7 linked regions of the Homo sapiens genome follow. Changing the gene in region 2 together with the main gene of any one other region gives a genetic interaction. Each region holds a gene or a part of one and is shown on either strand. Other genes may lie near its edges.

Evidence for each region.
Region 1: changes in IGF1R (region 2) and EP300 together harm fitness less than expected from each alone (positive genetic interaction), as found in Homo sapiens cells (one large-scale study listed by BioGRID).
Region 3: changes in IGF1R (region 2) and CAMK2A together harm fitness less than expected from each alone (positive genetic interaction), as found in Homo sapiens cells (one large-scale study listed by BioGRID).
Region 4: changes in IGF1R (region 2) and RICTOR together harm fitness less than expected from each alone (positive genetic interaction), as found in Homo sapiens cells (one large-scale study listed by BioGRID).
Region 5: changes in IGF1R (region 2) and TRAPPC13 together harm fitness more than expected from each alone (negative genetic interaction), as found in Homo sapiens cells (one large-scale study listed by BioGRID).
Region 6: changes in IGF1R (region 2) and TAOK2 together harm fitness more than expected from each alone (negative genetic interaction), as found in Homo sapiens cells (one large-scale study listed by BioGRID).
Region 7: changes in IGF1R (region 2) and MTOR together harm fitness more than expected from each alone (negative genetic interaction), as found in Homo sapiens cells (one large-scale study listed by BioGRID).

The regions. Positions count from the first base shown.
Region 1 is NC_000022.11:41,099,092-41,102,591, reverse strand, and holds part of EP300 (histone acetyltransferase p300), read right to left. Parts: intron 1-3,500. UniProt on the Homo sapiens protein: Functions as a histone acetyltransferase and regulates transcription via chromatin remodeling. Acetylates all four core histones in nucleosomes. Histone acetylation gives an epigenetic tag for transcriptional activation.
Region 2 is NC_000015.10:98,962,285-98,965,030, forward strand, and holds the end of IGF1R (insulin-like growth factor 1 receptor isoform 1 precursor), read left to right. Parts: 3' UTR 1-2,246; downstream 2,247-2,746. UniProt on the Homo sapiens protein: Receptor tyrosine kinase which mediates actions of insulin-like growth factor 1 (IGF1). Binds IGF1 with high affinity and IGF2 and insulin (INS) with a lower affinity. The activated IGF1R is involved in cell growth and survival control.
Region 3 is NC_000005.10:150,286,974-150,291,076, reverse strand, and holds the start of CAMK2A (calcium/calmodulin-dependent protein kinase type II subunit alpha), read left to right. Parts: upstream 1-1,303; 5' UTR 1,304-1,451; coding exon 1,452-1,513; intron 1,514-4,103. UniProt on the Homo sapiens protein: Calcium/calmodulin-dependent protein kinase that functions autonomously after Ca(2+)/calmodulin-binding and autophosphorylation, and is involved in various processes, such as synaptic plasticity, neurotransmitter release and long-term potentiation.
Region 4 is NC_000005.10:39,064,400-39,067,899, forward strand, and holds part of RICTOR (rapamycin-insensitive companion of mTOR), read right to left. Parts: intron 1-3,500. UniProt on the Homo sapiens protein: Component of the mechanistic target of rapamycin complex 2 (mTORC2), which transduces signals from growth factors to pathways involved in proliferation, cytoskeletal organization, lipogenesis and anabolic output.
Region 5 is NC_000005.10:65,656,027-65,659,526, reverse strand, and holds part of TRAPPC13 (trafficking protein particle complex subunit 13), read right to left. Parts: intron 1,160-3,500; coding exon 1,026-1,159; intron 1-1,025.
Region 6 is NC_000016.10:29,980,368-29,983,867, reverse strand, and holds part of TAOK2 (serine/threonine-protein kinase TAO2), read right to left. Parts: intron 2,208-3,500; coding exon 2,114-2,207; intron 2,010-2,113; coding exon 1,928-2,009; intron 1,135-1,927; coding exon 967-1,134; intron 818-966; coding exon of another isoform or gene 797-817; coding exon 536-796; intron 366-535; coding exon 204-365; intron 1-203. UniProt on the Homo sapiens protein: Serine/threonine-protein kinase involved in different processes such as membrane blebbing and apoptotic bodies formation DNA damage response and MAPK14/p38 MAPK stress-activated MAPK cascade.
Region 7 is NC_000001.11:11,252,552-11,256,051, forward strand, and holds part of MTOR (serine/threonine-protein kinase mTOR), read right to left. Parts: coding exon 3,441-3,500; intron 1,423-3,440; coding exon 1,288-1,422; intron 1-1,287. UniProt on the Homo sapiens protein: Serine/threonine protein kinase which is a central regulator of cellular metabolism, growth and survival in response to hormones, growth factors, nutrients, energy and stress signals.

The sequences.
Region 1 (3,500 bases), on a different chromosome or scaffold from region 2:
TGCCCCATCCATTAAATGGGTAAAATGGAAAGTCTAAATTCCTGTATTATAAGCCCTCCATGATTGGCCCCCTTGCTCACCTCTACAGTCAAGTTTTTGGCTATTCTACCAGTCAGACAGCACTCACAGGTTCCCAGAACAGGATATACCTGGCCTCACACAGTCTCCTTTCTAGCCTGGGCTCATTTTTACTAATCCTATCTCTATCTGTGAGATCCCAAAATCAGACACAATTCCTCAAAGACAGCCACCAGGATAACTACTGGGTTAGGTTCTCCTGTTCCTCCCACTATATACGTACTTCCCAAATACAATGCTGATCACACCAGACTCCGTGAATGCCAGTCTTCTTCCCTTATCTATAAACTCCAGGAAGGAAAGAAGGAACAATGTACAGAGGATAAGTTCCTGGCATACAGAAAATGTTGGCCTAATACAGAATAACTGCCATCTTGTCAACTCTTCTACGCCAGTATTCTTCAAATTATGGCTCAAAAGCCAACAGTGGGTCATAAAAATCAATATAGTAGGCTGCAACCAGTACTAAAAAAAAAAAAAAAAAGAAAAGAAAAAAAAGCAACAGAAAATATGAGAGTATATTACAAGTAATAAGGGTAAGTATTCTTGTGCATTCTTTGAAACAGAGTCTCTAGTGCTACAAGTTAAAGGTAGTTCTTCCTTAAGTGTTGTAAAAAAATTCTTTGGAGCACTGCACTGCTACTTTTCTTCTTCCTCCTTTATAAGAAAGTTTCTTAGAGGCAGGCATAGTGGCTCACATCTGCAATCCCAGCTACTCAGGAGGCCGAAGCAGGAGGATAACTTCAGCCTGGGCAACACAGCAAGACTCCATCTCAAGAAAATTTATTCTTTAAGACCCAGGTGGCTGGGCACGGTGGCTTACCCCTGTAATCCCAGCACTTTGGGAGGCCGAGAAGGGTAGATTATGAAGTCAGCAGATCGAGACCATCCTGCCTAACATGGTGAAACCCCATCTCTACTAAAAATACAAAAAATTAGCCGGGCATGGTGGCGGGTGCCTGTAGTCCCAGCCACTAGGGAGGCTGAGGCAGGAGAATGGCATGAACCCAGGAGGCGGAGCTGGCAGTGAGCCGAGATCGTGTCACTGCACTCTAGCCTGGGTGACAGAGCTAGACTCCGTCTCAAAAAAAAAAAAAAAGATCCATGTAAGAAAATGAAAAATAGAAAAAATTATGCTTAATTGGCCAGGCACTGTGGCTCTCGCCTCTAATACCAGCACTTTGGGAGGCCGAGGTGGGCAGACTGAGGTCAGGAGTTCGAGACCAGCCTGGCCAACACGGTGAAACCCTATCTCTACTAAAAATACAAACATTAGCCAGGCATGGTAGCAGGTGCCTGTAATCCCAGCTACTTGGGAGGTTGAGGCAGGAGAATAGCTTGAACCCAGGAGATGGAGGCTACAGTGAGCCAGGATTGCACCACTGCACTCCTGTCTAGGAAACAGAGTGAGACTCTGTGTCTAAAAAGAAGAAAGAATATGCTTAACACAGTTCTTTATCAAGAAGCCATTCTTAAACATTTCTAACAAGAACAATGTTTTCCATTTTCTCATTATGCCTTAACTATCTGCTGATTTTCATTTCTATTACTTACGTATACAAGACATCTTACATGATAGGATATATAAGATGTCTTGTATACGTGACATGATAATATATATGATATATATATACGTGACATGATACAAGATGTCATGATACTATATATATATGGTTGTCCCTTGGTATCTGCTGGGAATTGGTTCCAGAATCCACTCCCTCCACTGCAGATACCAAAATCTGAGGATGCTCCAGTCCCTGATATAAAGGGGACATGTAGTATTTGCATATAACCTACACACACCCACCCATATACTTTGAATTCTTTCTGGATTATTTACAATACCTAATGCAGTGTAAATGCAACATAAATAGTTGGTGCACTGTATTGTTTAGGGAATAATGACAAGAAAATAAAGTCTGTACATGTCCAGTACAGATGCAACCATGGATTTTTTTCCCCTAAATATTTTCAATCTGTGGCTGACTCCACAAACACGGAACCCTCAGATACGGAAGGCTAACTGTACAGTATTTTTCCATTTTAAGCTCTGTTCCTATATTCTTATACTCCTAGAAAACAACATTTGGATAGATGACATAAGGCTTACTCTTAAGACTCCTCTATGAACATCATGCACTTGGCTTTCTCTTTATCCAGTCTATCTATACAGGAGTTCATCCTTACCCCGTTTCATTTTCTGCCATTTCAAACACCTGTGGTACAAAAATATTACAAAGAAAACTGCAGAAATAAACACTAATTTTTGTTGTTTTAGAAACAGAGTCTTGCTATGTCACCTAGGCTGGAGTGTACAGTGGTGTCATCATAGCTCACTGTAACCTCAAAACTCCTGGGCTCAAGAGATCCTCACACCTTAAGCCTCCCAAGAAGCTAGGACTACAGATGCATGCCACCATGCCTTGCTGACTTTTTAAATTTTTTTTCTAGAGATGGTGGGGGGATGGGGGGTCCCACTACATTGCCCAGGCTGGTCTTGAATGCCTGGCCTCAAGCAATCCTCCTGCCTCAATCTCCCAAAGTGCCAGGATTACAGGCGTGAGCCACAACAATGTTTTAAACTGTGCGCCATTCTGAGTAGCCTGATGAAATCTCACCTGACCGGGTAGTGAATCTCCCCTCCGTCTAATGTATTCACCTGTATAAACTACCAGCCATTTGTCACTTAGTAGCCATCTCAGTTATCAGATTGTCAGACTGACTATGGGGCAGGGCAATGCTTGAGTTTTAAGTAACCCTTATTTTACTTAATGACAGTCCCTAAGTCCAAAAGTAGCAATGACAGCTATATGGATATGCCAAAGAGAAGCTGTAAATTGCTTGAAGGTGAAAGTTCTTGACTTAATAAGGAATGAAAAAAAATTGTATGCGGAGGTTACAAAGATCAAATCTATACATGAAATTGTGAAGGAAAAAAATTCGTGATAGTTTTGCTGTTGTACCTCAAACTGCAAACATCACAGCCACAGTGCATGACAAGTGATTAGTTAAGATGGAAAAGGCATTAAATTTGTGTGTGGAAGACACGGACAGAAACGTGTTCTGACTGATGACAATTATATTCACTACTATACAGGGTTTCAGGTATCCACTGGAGATCTTGGAATGTATCCCGCAAGGATAAGGGGGGACTACTGTATATCCACGAAAAACAAAAACAGGCCGGGCGCGGTGGCTCATGCCTGTAATCCCAACATTTTGGGAGGCCGAGGTGGGTGGATCACGAGGTCAGGACTCCCTGTCTCTACTAAAAATACAAAAATTAGCCGGGCATGGTGCTGCGCAGCTGTAGTCCTAGCTACTCCGGAGGCTGAGCAGGAGAATCGCTTGAAGCCGGGAGACGGAGGTTGTCATAGGCCGAGATCACGCCACTGTACTCCAGCTTGGGCAACAGAGCAAGA
Region 2 (2,746 bases):
AGTCCCAGTTATGCATTTCAAGTTTGGGGTTTGTTCTTTTCGTTAATGTTCCTCTGTGTTGTCAGCTGTCTTCATTTCCTGGGCTAAGCAGCATTGGGAGATGTGGACCAGAGATCCACTCCTTAAGAACCAGTGGCGAAAGACACTTTCTTTCTTCACTCTGAAGTAGCTGGTGGTACAAATGAGAACTTCAAGAGAGGATGTTATTTAGACTGAACCTCTGTTGCCAGAGATGCTGAAGATACAGACCTTGGACAGGTCAGAGGGTTTCATTTTTGGCCTTCATCTTAGATGACTGGTTGCGTCATTTGGAGAAGTGAGTGCTCCTTGATGGTGGAATGACCGGGTGGTGGGTACAGAACCATTGTCACAGGGATCCTGGCACAGAGAAGAGTTACGAGCAGCAGGGTGCAGGGCTTGGAAGGAATGTGGGCAAGGTTTTGAACTTGATTGTTCTTGAAGCTATCAGACCACATCGAGGCTCAGCAGTCATCCGTGGGCATTTGGTTTCAACAAAGAAACCTAACATCCTACTCTGGAAACTGATCTCGGAGTTAAGGCGAATTGTTCAAGAACACAAACTACATCGCACTCGTCAGTTGTCAGTTCTGGGGCATGACTTTAGCGTTTTGTTTCTGCGAGAACATAACGATCACTCATTTTTATGTCCCACGTGTGTGTGTCCGCATCTTTCTGGTCAACATTGTTTTAACTAGTCACTCATTAGCGTTTTCAATAGGGCTCTTAAGTCCAGTAGATTACGGGTAGTCAGTTGACGAAGATCTGGTTTACAAGAACTAATTAAATGTTTCATTGCATTTTTGTAAGAACAGAATAATTTTATAAAATGTTTGTAGTTTATAATTGCCGAAAATAATTTAAAGACACTTTTTTTTTCTCTGTGTGTGCAAATGTGTGTTTGTGATCCATTTTTTTTTTTTTTTTTTAGGACACCTGTTTACTAGCTAGCTTTACAATATGCCAAAAAAGGATTTCTCCCTGACCCCATCCGTGGTTCACCCTCTTTTCCCCCCATGCTTTTTGCCCTAGTTTATAACAAAGGAATGATGATGATTTAAAAAGTAGTTCTGTATCTTCAGTATCTTGGTCTTCCAGAACCCTCTGGTTGGGAAGGGGATCATTTTTTACTGGTCATTTCCCTTTGGAGTGTAGCTACTTTAACAGATGGAAAGAACCTCATTGGCCATGGAAACAGCCGAGGTGTTGGAGCCCAGCAGTGCATGGCACCGTTCGGCATCTGGCTTGATTGGTCTGGCTGCCGTCATTGTCAGCACAGTGCCATGGACATGGGAAGACTTGACTGCACAGCCAATGGTTTTCATGATGATTACAGCATACACAGTGATCACATAAACGATGACAGCTATGGGGCACACAGGCCATTTGCTTACATGCCTCGTATCATGACTGATTACTGCTTTGTTAGAACACAGAAGAGACCCTATTTTATTTAAGGCAGAACCCCGAAGATACGTATTTCCAATACAGAAAAGAATTTTTAATAAAAACTATAACATACACAAAAATTGGTTTTAAAGTTGACTCCACTTCCTCTAACTCCAGTGGATTGTTGGCCATGTCTCCCCAACTCCACAATATCTCTATCATGGGAAACACCTGGGGTTTTTGCGCTACATAGGAGAAAGATCTGGAAACTATTTGGGTTTTGTTTTCAACTTTTCATTTGGATGTTTGGCGTTGCACACACACATCCACCGGTGGAAGAGACGCCCGGTGAAAACACCTGTCTGCTTTCTAAGCCAGTGAGGTTGAGGTGAGAGGTTTGCCAGAGTTTGTCTACCTCTGGGTATCCCTTTGTCTGGGATAAAAAAAATCAAACCAGAAGGCGGGATGGAATGGATGCACCGCAAATAATGCATTTTCTGAGTTTTCTTGTTAAAAAAAAATTTTTTTAAGTAAGAAAAAAAAAGGTAATAACATGGCCAATTTGTTACATAAAATGACTTTCTGTGTATAAATTATTCCTAAAAAATCCTGTTTATATAAAAAATCAGTAGATGAAAAAAATTTCAAAATGTTTTTGTATATTCTGTTGTAAGAATTTATTCCTGTTATTGCGATATACTCTGGATTCTTTACATAATGGAAAAAAGAAACTGTCTATTTTGAATGGCTGAAGCTAAGGCAACGTTAGTTTCTCTTACTCTGCTTTTTTCTAGTAAAGTACTACATGGTTTAAGTTAAATAAAATAATTCTGTATGCATTTCTGTCTCTGGTTTGGTTTTGTCCCTCCTGGAAGCATCACTACACTTTGGTGGCAGGGAAGCTGAGCTATGTGGGGCACGTGTGTTCACGCATGTTGCCTGGAAGCGTTCTCCAGAAAAGCATTGCCTCTTCTCTGACAGCTGAGCTTTCTCAGCATGCAGATTGCCAGTAAAGACGACAGGGAAGCTATCTGTTTCTCCCTCCATTAAATCATCTGGAAAGAAATTTGAATACATAAATTACGAAACTCTGTACTGCAGTTCCGACTGATTTGTAGACTTTTTTCCTATACCTTCCACTAACAACAGTCAGGCCAAGGCAAGTCTGATCTGCATGACCCCAAGGCAGAGGACTTCAGTTCTTCACATTTCCCATGTGCTTTTTGGTCTTTCACAGCTGACATGCCCACCTCGGGGGGATGCTGGTGAGAACCCAGTGGGCCTCACGCAGAATGTGGGTCACTGGAGGAGCTCCAAAGTCCTAGTTACTTTCTAGCTG
Region 3 (4,103 bases), on a different chromosome or scaffold from region 2:
GAGAATCACTTGAACCCAGGAGACGGAGGCTTCAGTGAGCCGAGCTTGCACCACTGTACTCCAGCCTGGGTGACAGAGTAAGACTCTGTCTCCAAAATAAATAAATAAATAAATAAATAATATAAATAATAAATGTCCAGGAATCAGAGCTCAAACTCAGATCCTTAGTCTTAAACTCCAGTCCCTTTTCTTCCTAACTCCAAGACCTTGGAGTAAGATCTTGTGGCTGTAGGTATGGCTGATGCCCTGAAGAGTTGAAGTTGGCAGGGAAGGTGCCCAGAAAATTTTGGATTGAAGATTTCATGGCAAGTCTCTGGCCAGTGGCCTAGCCCGGGTAAGCCATGCTATGCTCACCTCCCCACAGCCCCCTCTCGCCTTTTTTTTTTTTTTTTTTTTTACCTTGACTGGAAGCACAAGCAGAAACTGGGACATGAGCACCAGGAGACCAGATTTCCATGGTCCCGTTGGGGGCATGGGGTTGGGGAGAGGTTGCAGAGGAGGGCTCTGGAGGGGAGCAACTGTCACAGCTGTGAGAGGTGGGGGTGAGCAGGCAGTCAGGGCTGTTCCCTCCAGAATCCTGGGGTGTCCTCTGCACTTCTGCGCCAAGCTGGAGTGCTAGTGTGATGGACAAGGTGGTAAGAGAGCTGAAAGAGCACGAGCATAACAAGAAAGACAGAGGCAGAAGCAAAAAAAAAAAAAAAAAAAAAACAGAGGGCAACAGAGAGACAGTTACAGAGACTACAGTGATCCACAGAGGGAGAGCCATCCCTGTGAATTAGCCATCATTTCCCTGTAAACCTTAGAACCCAGCTGTTGCCAGGGCAACGGGGCAATACCTGTCTCTCTAGAGATGAAGTTGCCAGGGTAACTGCATCCTGTCATTCGTTCCTGGGGACCATCCGGAATGCGGCACCCACTGGCTGTTACCATGGCAACTGCCTTTTTGCCCCACTTAATCCCATCCCGTCTGCTACAAGGGCCCCACAGTTGGAGGTGGGGGAGGTGGGAAGAGAAAAGATCACTTGTGGACAAAGTTTGCTCTATTCCACCTCCTCCAGGCCCTCCTTGGGTCCATCACCCCAGGGGTGCTGGGTCCATCCCACCCCCAGGCCCACACAGGCTTGCAGTATTGTGTGCGGTATGGTCAGGGCGTCCGAGAGCAGGTTTCGCAGTGGAAGGCAGGCAGGTGTTGGGGAGGCAGTTACCGGGGCAACGGGAACAGGGCGTTTTGGAGGTGGTTGCCATGGGGACCTGGATGCTGACGAAGGCTCGCGAGGCTGTGAGCAGCCACAGTGCCCTGCTCAGAAGCCCCGGGCTCGTCAGTCAAACCGGTTCTCTGTTTGCACTCGGCAGCACGGGCAGGCAAGTGGTCCCTAGGTTCGGGAGCAGAGCAGCAGCGCCTCAGTCCTGGTCCCCCAGTCCCAAGCCTCACCTGCCTGCCCAGCGCCAGGATGGCCACCATCACCTGCACCCGCTTCACGGAAGAGTACCAGCTCTTCGAGGAATTGGGCAAGTGAGTTGTGCCTCAGGAAGTCCTGGAAGGCATGGGGGGCGGGGAGGTCAGGGTCTCTAGTGGGGTGTGTGTGCCTGCAGTGCTTGGGGAGCATTCCTTGTACACAGATGAAGGCAGGCTGCATGGGTTTGGGGGCACCTGCCTGTGTACAGAGTGTCCAGAGTCGGGCGTGGGTATGTTTGTGGGTGCACAGATGTGCCAAGCTAGCCAGGCCAGTGTGTATGTAGGGATGAAGGGTTGACAGTGTATGCCAGTGCACACACATACACACAAAATGCACACAAGTACACACAACCTGGATACACACAGATTCTTAGAGACTTAGGGTTAAAAAGGGATTTTCCTAGTCAGCTGGGTCCAAAGCTGGAATTCCTTCTCTAGTTTTGCTTGAGGTGGCCATCCGCCCTCCACTTAGATACCTCCAGTGACAGAGAATTCACCAGCTCCCGGTAGTTCTTCCTGACTTTAGACACCCACAGTGACTGTACAGAGTGGCCAACTTCTCCCTCCCTACCTCCCCTTTCTCAGCTCCTGCCAGGAGTGAGGGCGTCAGTACAGTAGGGGTTAATATCTGAGCATGACAGGCTTCCCGGGTGTTGGGAGGTGGGGAGAGGAAATCAGGAAAGCTGTAGCGGGGAGCACCGCTGTTTCAGGGGCTAGGGTATGAAGGGTGCAGTGGCTCTGGACAAGCAAAGTTGCCCAGCCCAGAGCTCATTTTCTGCCCTGATGACTGCTGTGTAGAGAAGGATGGGAGGATGAGGAAAGAGGGGAGGCCCTTGTGGGTGGCCCAGTAGGGTGTGGAGTGTCAGGGAGGGATTCCTGGATGTCCCCAGCTGGGTTTCTGGAGGATCCTGGGATGGGTCAAGGGTTGGGTGCATTTTGGAGGCAGAGTTTGCCTTGTGGGCAAAGGAGCACCGATGCCCTGGTTGGTTTCTGCTGAGGCAGCAGGAGCACGGGGGGAGGGGCCCTGGAGGCAGGTGTGTATTGGTGTGAGTTCTGAATGTGTGTGTACTAGTGTGCATTTTGAGGAGTGATGTGTGTGGCTGTAGAAGGGCTTTTGAGGGAAATTGCTTGTGACACTGGGGTACGCTGGTGTGCCCTGCCAGGGTGTGCAAGCATTCATGCATGTGCACCAGGAAGAGGTGCTTCGTGTGTAAGGCCTGAAAATGCAAGTGTGCCTTGCAAGGGTGCATGTGTGTGAGTATTACAAGAGTGCTGTTGGCTGGGTTGAATGAGAACAAGGGTGTAAACATGACTCATTAAATGTGCACATGTATGGCAGGTTAGAGCTGTGTGCACATAGGAAGGCACATGTGTGTGAGGTCTAGGGGTGTGTGAGGATGCTCATATGAGATGCGGACACAATGGTGTTCCTGTGAGGTCTTGATATGCACATCTACGTGAAGACTGGGGTCATGCACACAGGATGATGTACGTGTGTGTGCACACGCATGTGTGTGCATGTGTGAGGCCTGGGCTCACAGGGTTATGTGGGAGTATGGGTGTTATAGGCATGTGTGAGCTCATGCTGGTGTCTGCATATGTGTGGGAGGTGGCCCTGTGACTGTATACAGGAAGGCTGCTTGCACACACACACACACACACACACACACACACACACACACAGAGGCTATCCTACAGGCATGCACCACCTCCCTTGAGCACATATACCCCCATGTGTACGTGTGTTCACTCTTATCTGCAGACTTTCAGCTTTTCTGAATGTGCTTTTTTTGCGGGTAGGGGCAGGAACAAAATGTTTGGGGCTGCTCTGGAGGACTGAGGCTGTCTACAAACTTGTGCAGGGACCCCTCTCCAGGTGTTTTCCAGTGCTCGCCTAGAACCCAAGAATTCCCTGATTAGCCATGAAGCTGCCTTTCAGGGAGTGACCAAGACTGGGTCCTGGCAGGACTGCGTCATGAGTACAGTGAGATGGAGTTGAGATGTGACTCAAGTGCTCAAAGTGAAAATAAAAGTGATGTTTTGCCCCAAGAGGAGATGGATATCATTAAGACTGGGTTTTGTGGGGGCAACTTGGTAGAGAGACCCTTCGTGAGCCTTCACAGAGAATTTCAGGGGCAAGGGAGCCCTGGTGTGGCCATGGCAGGAAAACCGAGGGTAGCAGGCATAGCTAGGCCTTGTTTAATCAATTTCAGACTTCTTCCTTCCAGAACCATCAGACTGCTCTTAACCTTTTTTAGGTCACATATTCCTTCAGGAATCTGATGAAAGTCTAAATCTACGTTCCCCAGAAAAACGCACAAACCTACGAAATGTTGCATGCAATGTCAGGAGCTTGCAGGGACATCGGGAAGACTGTGTATGAGCCTAAGTTTGCAGAAGCTTGTGTTAGAGACAAGGGGATAAAGTGGACTGATTCCGCACCCCTGATGTCTGTGTTAAAAAGTCCAGACCACATCATTGAGGAGCCTGGGGCTCCTGCTCTCCACAGCAGCTTCAGTCTGAGCATCCAGTGGTGCAGGGAGGGGCAGTGCCCTGCGTAGCCACTAGGGACACAGGCGCTGTCCCTCATCACCCATAGCTCTGTGACACCAGGCAGGCTATGCTACCTCTTTACCCCCACCTGTAG
Region 4 (3,500 bases), on a different chromosome or scaffold from region 2:
AAAAGAAAATATACATCAATCTATTGTGGGAGAGAAAAGAACATAAAATATTTTCTCACCAATATAAAGTATTTAGATTATATATTTAGCATTCTTCTACCATTATTCATCTTTTTAAGGCAGGTAATTGAGAATGGACTGTATTTAATAGCTTGGTGACAGAGGCACAGATACACAGGCAAGCAAATCATTCGCTCACCCCACTGTGCTTTTCGCAGTCTTATTCTTGGTAGCCTGAGACCTGGGAGCGGGAGGAGGCAGCAAGTCACTGCAGGTGGATCACTTAAAAGGAAATTGAGAGTTGACTGTAATTTAAATTTAAAGTGCTATGAAATACCACCACTCCTACATGTATTCATTATTGTTTGTGGGACTACTACTCACAGTGATTTAACAAGGCTACAAATGCTTTCTTTTTAACCTTTTCAATATTCCAGGTCTGTAGTGATATGTGAGAATTACAAAGGTAGGAGGCTAAAGTGCTGCAAGTATAAAGTAGTATGCATTTTAGAGGTGAGGAAATTGAAGCCAGAGAGGTTAAATAGCATGCCATATCTTCCTCAGATTAAAGCAGAACCTCGTTCTCTGGACTTCAACTTCAATGCAACAGTCTAGCAGCCCCTTCAATTCAAAACTCTTCTCCTGGCTTATGTATCAGGCCATTCTTGCATTGTTACAAAGAAACACCTAAGACTGGGTAATTTATAAGAAAAGAGGTTTAATTGGCTATCATTTCTGCAGCCTATACAGGAAGCAGGGCACCAGCACTTGCTTCTGGGATGGCTTCAGGAAGCTTTTACTCATAGCAAAGACGAAGCGTGTGCAGGCATCTCACATGGCAGAGCGGGAGCAAGAGGGAGCTGGGGGGAAGGAGCCACAGGCTTTTAAATAACCAGATGTTGTGAAAACCTACTATCACGAAGACAGCACCAAGCCATGAGGGATCCACTCCCATGACCCAAACACCTCCCACCATGCCCCATCTCCAGCATTGGAGATTACAATTCAACATGAGATTCGGGTGGGGACAAATATCCAAACTGTATCATTCTGCCCACGGCCCCTCCCAAATCTCATGTCCTTCTCACACTGCAAAATAAACTCATGCCTTCCCAACAGTCTCCCAAAGTCTTAACTCATTCCAGCATTAACTCTGAAGTCCAAAGTCTCATCTGAAACAAGGCAAGTCCCTTCCACTTATGAGGCTGTAAAGTCACAAATAAGTTATTTACTCCCAAGATACAATGAGGATATAGGCATTGGATAAACATTGCCATTTCAAAAAGGAGAAATCAACCAAAAGAAAGGGGCTACAGGCCCCATGCAAGTTCAAAACCCAGCAGGGCAGTCATTAAATCTTAAAGCTCCAAAATAATCTCCTTTGACTCTATGTTCCACATTCAAGGCACACTGCTGCAAAGGGTGGGCTCCCAAGGCTTTGGGCAACTCTGCCCTGTGGCTTTGCAGGGTTTAGCCCCCAGGAATGCTCTCACAGGTTTTAGTTGAATGCCTGTGGCTTCTCCAGGTATAGGATGCAAACTGCCAGTGGATCTACCATTCTGTGGTCTGGAGGATGGTAGGCCCCTTCTCACAGCTCCACTAGGCAGTGCCCCACTGGGGACTCTGGGGGGCTCCAACCCCACATTTCCCCTTGGCCCCACCCTAATAGAGATCCTCAATGAGGGCTCCACCCCTGCAGCAGGCTTCTGCCTAGACACCCAGGCTTTCTCATACATCCTCTGAAATCTAGGCAGAGGCTCCCAAGCCTCAGTTCTTGCACTCTGGGCACCTGCAGGCTTAATAATACATGTAAGCCATCAAGTCTTATGGCTTGCACCCTTTGAAGCAGCAGCCCGAACTGTACCTGGGCCCCTTTGAACAAGGCTGGAAGCCTGAGTGGCTGGGATGCAGGGAGCAGTGTCTTGAGGCTGTGCAAGGCAGCAAGGCCCGGCTAGCCCAGGCCCACAAAACCATTCTTTCTTCCTAGGCCTCTGGGCCTATGATGAGAGGGGCTGCTGTGAAGGTTTCTAAAATGCCTTGAAGGCCTTTTCTCCAACTTCACGGATATCAGCACTTTGGCATGTGTTTAATTATGCAAATATCTCTAGCACGTGGTTGCTCTATAGCCTGCTTGAATTCCTCCCCTGAAAAAGCTTTTTCTTTCTTTGCCACATGGCTAGGCTGCAAATTTCCCAAACCTTTATGCAGTGCTTCCTGTTTAAAAACAAATTCCAACTTTAAGTCATTTCTTTGCTCCTACATCTTAGCATGGGCTGTTAGCAGCATCCAGGACACATCTTGAACACTTTGCTGCTTAGACATTTCTTCCGCCAGATACCAGAGGTCATCACTCTCAAGTTCAAACTTCCACAGGTCCCTACAGAATGAACAGAATGCAACCAAGTGCTTTGCTAAAGCATAATGAGGGTGACCTTTGCTCCAGTTCCTACTAAGTTCTTCATTTCCACCTGAGACCTCATCATCATGGACTTCATTGTCCGTATCACTACCAGCATTTTGGTCACAACCATTCAACCAGTCTCTAAGAAGTTCCAAACTTTCCCTCATTTTCCTGTCTTCTGAGTCCTCCAAACTCTTCCAACCTCTGCCTGTTACCCAGTTTCAAAGCTGCTTCCATATTTTCAGGTATCTTTAGAGCAATGCTCCACGCCCACTTACCAATTTTCTGTAATAGGCTGTTCTTGCACTGCTATAAAGAAGCATCTGAGCCTGGGTAATTTAAAAGAGGTTTAATTGGCTATTGGTTCTGTAGGCTGTACAGGAAGCATGGTGCCAGCATCTGCTTCTCGGGAGGCCTCAGGGTGTTTCTGCTCAAGATGGAAGGTGAAGCAGGAGTAGGCATCTCACATGGCAAAGTAGGAGTGAGAAAGAGTAAGAGGGTAGGTGCACACTTTTAAACAACCAGATCTTGCCAGAACTCACTATTGCAAAAACAACACCAAGCCATCAGGGATCCATTCCCATGGCCCAAACACCTCCCACCAAGCCCCACCTCCAGCATTGGGGATTACAATTCAACATGAGATTTGGGTGGGGACAAATATCCAAACTGTTTTAGCTTAAGAGATCACAATTTTCTCTCTTCTCTTCTATTGACTCCTTTCTTCTTATTGATTCCTACCCTATGATATACACCCTCATCATCTTATCTATTTTCATACATTCAAATCTTCAGCTCTTTTTCCATTTATATCCCTTTTCTCAACATCTTACACACAGAACAATCAGACTAGAAATTCAGGGCAACTAAAACCTCCATTCCAGTATTTGCTGCCACCTTTTACACATTTATATAATCACGTGAAATTCAAGGTGCAAAGCTGAACTCATTATCATCCTTCCCAAAATGACTTCTCCATTTTATGGCACCATCAATTTCATTGTCCCTTAGGACAGTAATCTTAAAGTACTCTTTTCCTTCTAATCTCCTTAATACTGTACTATTCTTTTTCCCATGTCTCTCACTCCCTTCTTCCAGT
Region 5 (3,500 bases), on a different chromosome or scaffold from region 2:
TCTTTTTAACTTCTCTACCATTCCTTCACATTCCTCCATTTTATTATTTGCAGGATAGCAATGATAGGATTCATATTTACCTCACTGGATTTTTATGAGACTTAAAAGACCAAATGCTTTGAATAGTAAAACATGAAATTAAAAGGGCTAGGATCTTTATTTTTATGTAATGGAGGGATGAAGATGGAGCACAGGAGAGTTTTTGGAAAGTGAAACTATTTTGCATAATATAGTAATGGTGGATACATGTTATATATTTGTCAAAACCTACAGTGCTTGACTATAGTCCCAGATACTTGGGAGATCGTTTGAGTCCAGAAATTTGACTTCAGCCTGGGCAACATTAATGAGACCTGTCTCTTAAAACAAAACAAACCAAAAACCAAAAACAATAAAACATACAACAAAAAGTGTGAATTCTAATGTAAATTATAGACATTAGTTAGTAATCAGTGTCAATATCATTTCATCAATTGTAGTAAATGTACCACATTAAAACAAGATGTAGGCCAGGCACAGTGGCTCACGCCTGTAAGGACAGCACTTTGGGAGGATAAGGTGGGCAGATCGCTTGAGGTCAGGAGCTGAAGACCAGCCTGGCCAATATGGTGAAACCCCATCTCTACTAAAAATAAAAAAATTAACCAAGCGTGGTGGCATGCACCTGTAATCCCAGCAGCTTGGGAGGCTGATGCACCAAAATTGCTTGAACCTGGGAGGTGGAGGTTACAGTGAGCCTAGATCAAGATCATGCCACTGCATAGAGCTGGACTCTTTCAAAAAATAAATAAATAAATAAATAAATAAAAATAAAAATAAAATAAAAAACAAGACGTAAATAACAAGAGAAACTGTGAGGAGTGGAAGAGGGTATGTGGAAACTCTACTTTCTGATGAATTTTTCTATGAACCTCAAATTCTTTAAAAAAAGTCTATTAAAAAAAAACCCACTGAAGAGCAATGGATGTTTAGAAAAACATGTATCTTTCAAAACAAGGATAAAGACTTCATAAATTAATATTTACCATTCTCCAGCTTGGCTGACTGAATTTAATTCTGTTACATTGTACATAATAGATGGCTCCAGTGAAACCTTCTCCATAAACATAGGTGAGGTTGTCATATTCTGAATCTGGGCTTCCAGAAATACTTCATCAGTCTGAGGATATGAAAAAAATATCCACCAAGGTGTGGTGGCATTTAAAATATTTATCTCAACAAAAATATCTTATCTATATGAAGAAAAAATATTAACCACAAATGTGATTAGTTCATGCCTGCAAATCAAAGTTACCACAATTAATGCAAGAAAAGAAATCTTCACCCTATCATAATTAACAGGGGCAAAGTCAAGTGTTAGTCAACTGATACCTTGTCAAACAATGGATGGAGGATAACTATATTTTGTCTTAACATCCCAAAATACTTAACTGGAATTTCATTTACAAATACTCTTTCTTTTCATTAGGTATTAAAATATTAAAATGTGCTTTAGTATGATGAATATACCTATGCTCCTATAATTTCAGTATTACGTTAAGATAATTAAGTCTTCATTATAATATGGCAGTATAACTTTGATTGTCATATTAATGCCAATTTAGATAGTGTAGTGACCACTAATACTATGAATAATCTATTTTGTAATCTTGAAGGATTTAACTTTTTAAATTAAAGCAATTTGCGAGTGGTCATTAGTGATTTCTTAGTTCATTTTAAATGTATATTGAGGGCTAAAAAAAGAATATGTGGATTATACTTCACCATCGTAGAGCTTTTAAATCAGGCAAAAGGTATTTTGTAGCCTCAGTGACAGATTTTAAAGCTGATGCTATTTAGCAATATTTGCCAGTAGGTAATTTTAATAATTAGATAAATTAGATAATTAGATAAATTTAGATAAATTAATTCCCCTAATTATGCTAAACATTATTTTATGCTATTTGGTTATTATTTTCCTTCATGTAATTGAAGGATAACAGACTAACTTGATTTATCTTTGAAACAAACCTACATGAAAAATGATACACTAAGGGTATTCAATAATTTTTTTCAAAAGTTTCATAGTAATATGTTTACTACACATAAATAACATAAAATCAACTATGACCAGAAAAATTTGCCACTTAAGAGCTTTTTATTTTTTTGAGACAGTCTCATTCTGTCACCCAGGCTGGAGTGTGGTGGGGTGATCTTGGTACACTGCAACCTCCGCCTCCCGGGTTCAAGGGATTCTCCTGCCTCAGCCTCCCGAGTAGCTGGGATTATAGGCGCGCAATATCATACTGAGCTAATTTTTGTATTTTTAGTAGAGACAGGGTTTCACCATGTTGGCCAGGCTGGTCTAGAACTCCTGACCTCAAGTGATCCACCCACCTCGGCCTCCCAAAGTGCTGGGATTAGAGGTGTGAGCCACTGTGCCTGGCCTATGAGCTTCCCCCAACCCCCACAAGATGGAGTCTTGCTCTGTTGCCCAGAGTAGAATGCAGTGGCAAGATCTCCTCTCACTGCAACCTCCACCTCCCAGGTTCAAGCGATTCTCCTGCCTCAGCCTCCCTAGTAGCTGGGACTACAGGCAGTGCCACCATGCCCAGCTAAATTTTTGTATTTTTATTTATTTTGAGACGAAGTTTCACTCTGTCACCCAGGCAGGAGTGCAGTGGTGCGATCTCAGCTCACTGCAACCTCTGCCTCCTGAGTTCAAGTGATTCTCCTGCCTCAGCCTCTCAAGTAACTGGGATTACGGGCAAGTGCCACCATGCCTGGCTAATTTTTGTATTTTTTATAGAGATGAGGTTTCACCATGTTGGCCAGGCTGGTCTCAAACTCCTGACCTCGTGATCCGCTCGCCTCGGCCTCCCAAAGTGCTGAGATTACAGGCATGAGCCACCGCGCCTGGCTGAGCTTTTTAAACACTAACACCAAGAAAATGAAAATCATTTGCAAAAATATAATGATTAAGTTATAATATAATGTACTATTATCTAAAATAAAACAGATTCTTTAGTTTTTGGGACATGTGTTCAAATGAAAATAGAAATAAAATGATTTATCAGTTTAAAAAAATGCATCATTTAATGGCATTTTTTGGTTACTGGTTCTAAAAAAAAGTACATATATCCCATCAATCCATTGCTTTTAAAAAAATAACCACAGACCCACATTTCAATTTAAAAACTGCAATTTTCTGCATAAATTTAGGAAGAGCTTAGATAAAACGAAAGAAAAACAAGCAGCATAATGGAAAATCAAGTTAGTTTGAACAGTTAGTGTAAAGCAATTTGATATTTTAAAAATTAAGAATTCAGTGCTAAGGCAGTTGATGTTATTACATATGTAATGTGATATAAGCAAATGCTGCTTATTGTAAATATAACTTTGAAAACAAAATTTTAGCCAAGTTGGGAAAATTTGCTTTTCTTCTGTTTCATTTTGTCAAGCGGCCATCATCACCTGACCCAGACTTAAAACTAAAACCACTGTGCATCTGAAAATGAATT
Region 6 (3,500 bases), on a different chromosome or scaffold from region 2:
CCAGATTGGGCCATATGACCAAAACAGTCCACTGGGAAGAGGAGGGAAGCAGGAGGGTTAAGGGGAGCAGGCAGGAGCCAGCAACAGAAAATGAGGGTAGAATCCAGACTCAATCCCATGCCACAGGGAGGAAATCATTTCTAGACTTAAAAAGACTTAAAAAACAGACAGCGAGCAGGCTGAGTGAGGATGGCTACACTCACCAGGGAGGCGGTTCGGATGGTGGCAAAGTGGTCTCGGTTACGGCAGTAGGCCCGGCGGCGGGCGGAAGAGGTGGTGGAAGTGGGAGCTGGGGCTGCAGGCGGCTGGAGAGGGCTGGGGGTTATCTCTGGCTGGTAGGGGTCATCATATAGGTTGTCAGAGCCCTAGAGGGAGATAGAAGGAACACCCAAGGCTCAGAGGCCACTGGGTCCAAAGAGAGCTACCTGAGGACAGCCAATCAGACTCAGAGGAGTGCTGCACTTAGGGAAGGAGGGCGAAGACCCAGGCAGTTCTAGAGCAGGTGGCTCGGGTCCCCCAAGGGTGAGCTGTGTACCGGCAGCCGGTGGATAATGGAGCTGTGAGAGGTGACTGTGTGCTCCCCCTCCTGCATCATGGCCATCTCCCGGGCTTCAGGGCCTTCTTCCTCCTCCTCCTCTTCCTCCTCCTCCTCCTCCTCTTCCTCGTTGTCTGAGGCATCTGCTAGGCTGTTGACGGAGCTGCTCTGGCTGGAGGCGCTGATGGACATGCTGGGCACTGAGTGGCTACTCTCGAGGCTGGTCAGAGTCCCGGCCCGGTGCATGTAGGGCTCGGCCTCCTGCGAACAGGGCGTAGGCTGCTGGACAGGGAAGGGGAAGCCCTGGGGCATATGCATGGAGGTAGCATGGGAAGATGGTGGTGTGAGTAGGGCTGGGGAAGGGGCCAAGCAACTGCAGGGGGCAGGCACACATGGGGTATAAAGAGGGGTGTTAGGGCAAGCTGGGTCACCTCTTCCTCCTCTGGGGCCTCGGCACCAGGGCCGTTGGGTGCCTCTTGGAACAGGATCTTCTTCATCTTGCGGTACTGCAGGTTGTCCAGCTCCCGCACGGCATCCTTGGTCCTCTGGATCAGGTCCATGATGACTGTGGGTGGCCGCTCCCGGAGCACAAAGCGGTGCTGGGGGAAGAGGGCACTGAGGTCTGCTGCCAACTCCCCTTCCCCCCACAACCCACAGCCCTTGGCATTCCCTCAGGCCTGAGGCACTCTTCTGGGGCCCACGCCCACCACGGGTTGATGCTGGCCTTATCCCAAGCCCTTCTCTCACAATTTTCTGTACCACCCAGTACCTACTCCCCAGACAGACTCTTCTTCCTCTAAGCATGGCTGACAGGCAGGGACAGTCAGGAGAACTGGATTCTCGTCCAGCTCCTCTACTAAAGGGCTATGTGACCTTGGACATGTCATGAGGCCCCTCTGGGCTTCATACAGTATCCTACAATTATAAAACAAGTGGGTCCAACTACATAATCTGAAGTTTCCAACTACGGCTCCTCAGGCCCCCATGGGTCTGTGAAGGGAATGGGGCCCCTCCATTTTTGATAATTCAAAAAACACCTAAGGGAAATCATACATTTACCCATGATAAGGCTACACAGGCTTTTGGCTTGCATTACATCAGATCAGTGGGGCAACCCTGGTTATCACATGCTGACCAGAAGCTCTGGCTGGCAATTATATAAATCTTTGATTAATAAAAGAAGGGAAAACAGTTTATTACTTAATAAATTAAGGCAGTCTGGTAGACAAAATCTTGTAAAACACAGAGTCCACTAGGCATTGGGGATGGGGTGGGAATTCATCAACGAAGCTCTTGGTGGAGGAGGAACTGGGAACCACTAATTTCCCTGGGGGTTCTTGTGGCTGTAACAAGCTACAGTTCCAGGAGAATGCTAGGCCAGCAGGCCCTCACCTTCAGGAGAACCTCTGAGGTTGGTCTGTCTTGAGGGATTTTCTGAAGACAGGAGTCGACAAAATTCCGGAAGTACTCAGACCTGAAAGTCACAGGAGGGTGGGAGAGGGGTGGGGAAGGCATGAGTCAGGCATCCATACCCCATGGCCTAACGCCTGGGCCCAGATTCGGAATCTCAGTCCTCACCAGTGTCCTGACTGGAGCACGGGGGATTCGTTCTGTGCAATGTGGTATAAGGCACTCATCGCATTCATGTTAAAGAGCGGTGGTTTCCGTTCAGCTACAGAAAAAGGTGAAAGGGAAGAAGGTGAGAGGTGGCAGGGGGTAGAGGACAATGGAATGGAACTGAGACGACTTGGGTTCAAACCCCAATTCCTTGACTTCCTTGCCACATGACCTTGAGAAGTTCCCATCATCCTGTTGCGTCTCAGTTAATTCCTTCCTCTGTAAAATACAACACCCATCCTCTCCACTGCACACGGGTGGAATAGGGGTCAAAGAAAATAACATCCACAAAAGCAGTAACGAAGGCAGAAGGACAGCCATTCAGTTATCACCCCAACTAATATTTCTTAGGTGCCAAAGGGAGCAGATAACTTGATAATTGCTATGGGGAAGATAAAAACAAGAATTAGGCCCCACCCTCAAGGAACCTCCAGTCTAAAAGATTAAATAGGACTGAAAAAATAACATCAAAGTATTAACTGGTATAAGAGGGAAACAGGGAAGTGGCTGGGAAGTTGAGAGTATGCAGTGAGCCTTCAAGCTAGCATATCTTCAGGGAATTCAGAGAAGGGCTTTGTAAAAAGCCCTGAGATTAGAAAGGTAAGTGCAAGCTAAGAGTCGCTAAGAGTCCCTTGTAGCCCAGACAAATGTCATGTTGTTTTGGCCTAAACGGTGATTTTTAAAATTAACTGCCAAAAGTAATAATCAAATAATAATACAAGTTTCCAGTTTCTCCTTAAGAATTAAATCTGGTGAAATGGAGTCTACATTACTGCATAACAATGGTCTGGAGATAAGCATTAGCTGCCCTCTTTCTATGGAAACAGCAATCTCCAGTTTGCCACATCCTTCTCCACACTGCTTCCCTGATATTGACTTAGTATGAGTTGACATTTATAATCAGACTGATATATATTTTTTTCAATAGTAGAGTAATATTTCTCTGTATCCACATCTCTTCCAAAAACTAGAAATAAAATGGACAGATCTAGCTTTTTCTTATACTTGGGTCCGTTTCTTACATTTTTCATCAACTGTCTGGGCCTGGCATCTAATGGTAAATGGAGACTGTGAAGATGGAGGAGAAGGGCTCGTCCAAATCTCTGACCTCGGGCAGAGGACCCAATACGAACCAAGGCAAGGAAGTGGAAGAGTTCATGACACACTCAGAGGGTGGAGCCCATGAAGGAAAGGGCCAGCATTTACGAAGCAAAGCCTCTAGGTTGGTGGGAGGAAGGATGGGGATGGCTTCAGTCTTGAAGGCAACAGGGGGCCACTCATGGCTCCAAACAGGGAGTGAAATGACAGCACTGAGCTTAGGCAGACCTCTCTGGCATCAGTACTTAAG
Region 7 (3,500 bases), on a different chromosome or scaffold from region 2:
CCAAAGGGAGAAAAATGAGGCTAAACAGGTAACTTGCCTGAGTCGCACAGTCATCAGAGCGGTGGGGATCTGAAGCCAGACTCCTCCTGCTTCTGCACACTGCTGCATGCGCTGCTCCCACATCTGGGCATGGCTATTATCTAACAAGCACTGTGTCTATTATAAGCAGGAATCCCCGGGGTAAAATTTCACAGCTCATTTTCTACAGCCAGTCTCACAGATGGAGCTTTACCTCCCAAATATATCCTGAATCAACTACTTCTCAGTATCTGTGCCACCACTCCTAGTCAAAGCCACCACTGTCACTCACCCAGACTACCGTAATAGCTTCGTCTGGCAGCCGTGAGAATGCAACCTCCAACTACAAGGCGCATAACCAAGGGCCCCAGCTGCTGCTCTGAAACCCATCACTAAGTTTGTGCCAACGTCACCCATTGCTCCCAGCCAATGACAGAACACAGTAGGGATGCTAAGGCTATCCTGCTCTTGGGAGACACAGACCTCTCTGACAGCCAACTTTGGCTTGAGGACCCCGCGGTGGCCCTGCAGAGTAGGCTAGAACACTTCTATCCGAATTTTACCCTCTTGCTTACTCAGGGTCAGATGTGCATTGTGGTCCGATGCTTCTCCCAGCTTCCTCCCCATATTCTCTTGAAGGCTGTTTCCCTAATAAAATCCATGCACTTTTAAATCCACCTTCTCAAGCCAACACATCTCCTAATTGGTCTCCCTGCTTTCATTCCTGCCTTTCCCCACATTTTTTCCTATAAGCAGTCAGTGATTGTTAGAAACGCATGACATCACATTATTCGCCTGTGTGCATACTTCCAATGTTTACCCCTGTGAAAGCTCGTGTTTACTGTGAACCGTGGGCCTATTAATTTGGCCCCTCCTTCCCTCTCCCTTGCTCCCGGTACACCAGCCATACTTCCCTTTCTTCTGTTTCATCAATGTCTCACACTCTTCCACCTCAAAGCCTCAGCCTGGAACACAGTCCCCCGGCCTGCTGCAAGGTAGCTCCTTCGTGTCATGTGGACCCCCGTCAAATAACACCACCTCAGGGAGGGCCTTCCTTGACCCTCCACTCACCCCCTCCCCATCACTCTCTATTCTATTCTGGTTTGACTTTCTTCATAGAACTTGCTGCTATCTGAAATTATCTTATTTACTTATTTATTATGTTTCCTGCCACAAAATGTCAGCTCCATGAGGACATGGATCTCGCCTTGCCTCGCTCACAGAATGGTACACGGGGAGCCTGGACTCCCCTCTGCCGTGGCTTCTCACCTCTCCCTCCATGCTGCTGATTCGGACCAGCTCGTTAAGGATCAACAAGGCTCCATGGATCCGATCATCCCGATTCATGCCCTTCTCTTTGGCCAAGGTCTCATCAAATCCCTTCTCTGCTTCTTCAAATGTGTGCTATGTAGAGAGACAGGGTGCCTTCATTAGAGACAGAGTACAAACCCAGAAAGAATACAGGCCCATCCCATCTACACTGGGGGTTCTGAGGTGCTACCACGCCTGCTCAGTGCCTAGTGCCAGTCATCAACAAAACTAACTGATCAATCTCTTTTATTTAATTCAGCTTCAATTTTTTTTTTTTGAGATGGAGTCTTGCTCTATTGCCCAGGCTGGAGTGCAGTGGCGCAATCTCGGCTCTCCACAACCTCCACCTCCTGGGTTCAAGTGATTCTCCTGCCTCAGCCCCCTGAGTAGCTGAGATTACAGGCACACACTACCACGCCTGGCTAATTTTTGTATTTTTAGTAGAGACAGGGCTTCACCATGTTAACCAGGCTGGTCTCAAACTCCTGACCTCAAGTGATCCACCCATCTCAGCCTCCCAAAGTGCTGTGATTACAGGTGTAAGCCACCACGCCCAGCCCCAGCTTCAATTCTCATAATAAGCCTTTGAGGAAGATACCATCATCATCCCTATTTAACAGCTAAAAACACAGGCTCAAAGAATTTAAGTGACTTGTCCAAGATCACACAGCAAAGGCAAGACTGGAACCCGCATCTCCCAATCCCATGTTCAGAGCTCTTTTTCTAATATAAGACTCACTGATAAGTTCCCTCTGCAGCAGTAATCAGCACAGGCCTCATTATACTAGAGCAGAGAGAAATGGCACTTTCTAAATTAGTATCATTTGTATCTCACTGATTTTGAGACACCTATTTTTCCGTATTTTAACATCTCTGAAAAGAGATGTCTTTTTTTTTTTTTTGAGACAGAGTCTCACTCTGTTGTCAAGTCTGGAGTGCAGTGGCATGATCATGACTCACTGCAGCCTTGATCTCTTGGGCTCAAGCAATTCTCCCGCCTCAGCCTCCCAAATAGCTGGGACCACAGGCGTGTAACACCAGGCCCAGCTAATTTTTTTATTTTTTGTAGAGACGGGATCCCACATGCTGCCCAGGCTGGTCTCAAACTCCTGAGCTCAAGCAATCCTCCTGCCTTGGCCTCCCAAAATGTTGGGATTACAGGCGTGAGCATCCAGCTGAGATGTCTTATAATTAATTATTAATAAGAAGAAGGTACAAAGTTGGCCGGGCACAGTGGCTCATGCCTGTAATCCCAGCACTTTGGGAGGTCAAGGCAGGTGGATCATGAGGTCAAGAGATCAAGACCATCCTGGCCAATATGGTGAAACCCTGTCTCTACTAAAAACACAAAAATTGGCTGGGCGTGATGGCACATGCCTGTAGTCCCAGCTACTCGGGAGGCTGAGGCAGGAGAATCACTTGAACCCAGGAGGCAGAGGCTACAGTGAGACAAAATCACACCACTAAACTCCAGCTTGGTGACAGAACAAGACTCCATCTCCAAAAAAAAAAAAAAAAAAAAAAAAAAAGAAAGAGGTACCAAGTCACAGTTTAATTGGCATATTTGCATTCTTAGTCATACATAAAATAATGTATAGAATAATGGTATGGCTATCAATAGATGTTTGCTTTAATAAAATGCAATAAAGTAACTATTGATTCATACTGAGCATAAAAAATTCATTGGAGGCCAGGCGCGGTAGCTCATGTCTGTAATCCCAGCACTTTGAGAGGCCAAGGCAGGTGGATCACCTGAGGTCAGGAATTCGAGACCAGCCTGGCCAACATGGCAAAACCCTGTCTCTATTACAAAAATTAGCTGGGCGTGGTGGCACACGCCTGTAGTCCTAGCTATTCGGGAGGCTAAGGTGGGAGAAAATCGCTTGAACCCAAGAGGCGGAGGTTGCAGTGAGCCGAGATTGCGCCACTGCACTCCAGCCTGGGCGACAAAGCAAGACTCCATCACAAAAAAAAAAAAAAAAAAATTCATTTGAGAGCAAACCAAAACGTGATTCTTGCTCCATGGCAAGGGCTTGTGGCTGCCCTTTAGGCCAGGTGATTCTCTACGCAGATGTGCTTTGCTAGTGGTGGGAATGGAGCCATCTCCTTACCCTGTACCACTGAGGCTTCTGCATCTCCTTCGGCTCACGCTGGGTTGTGAGAATCAGACA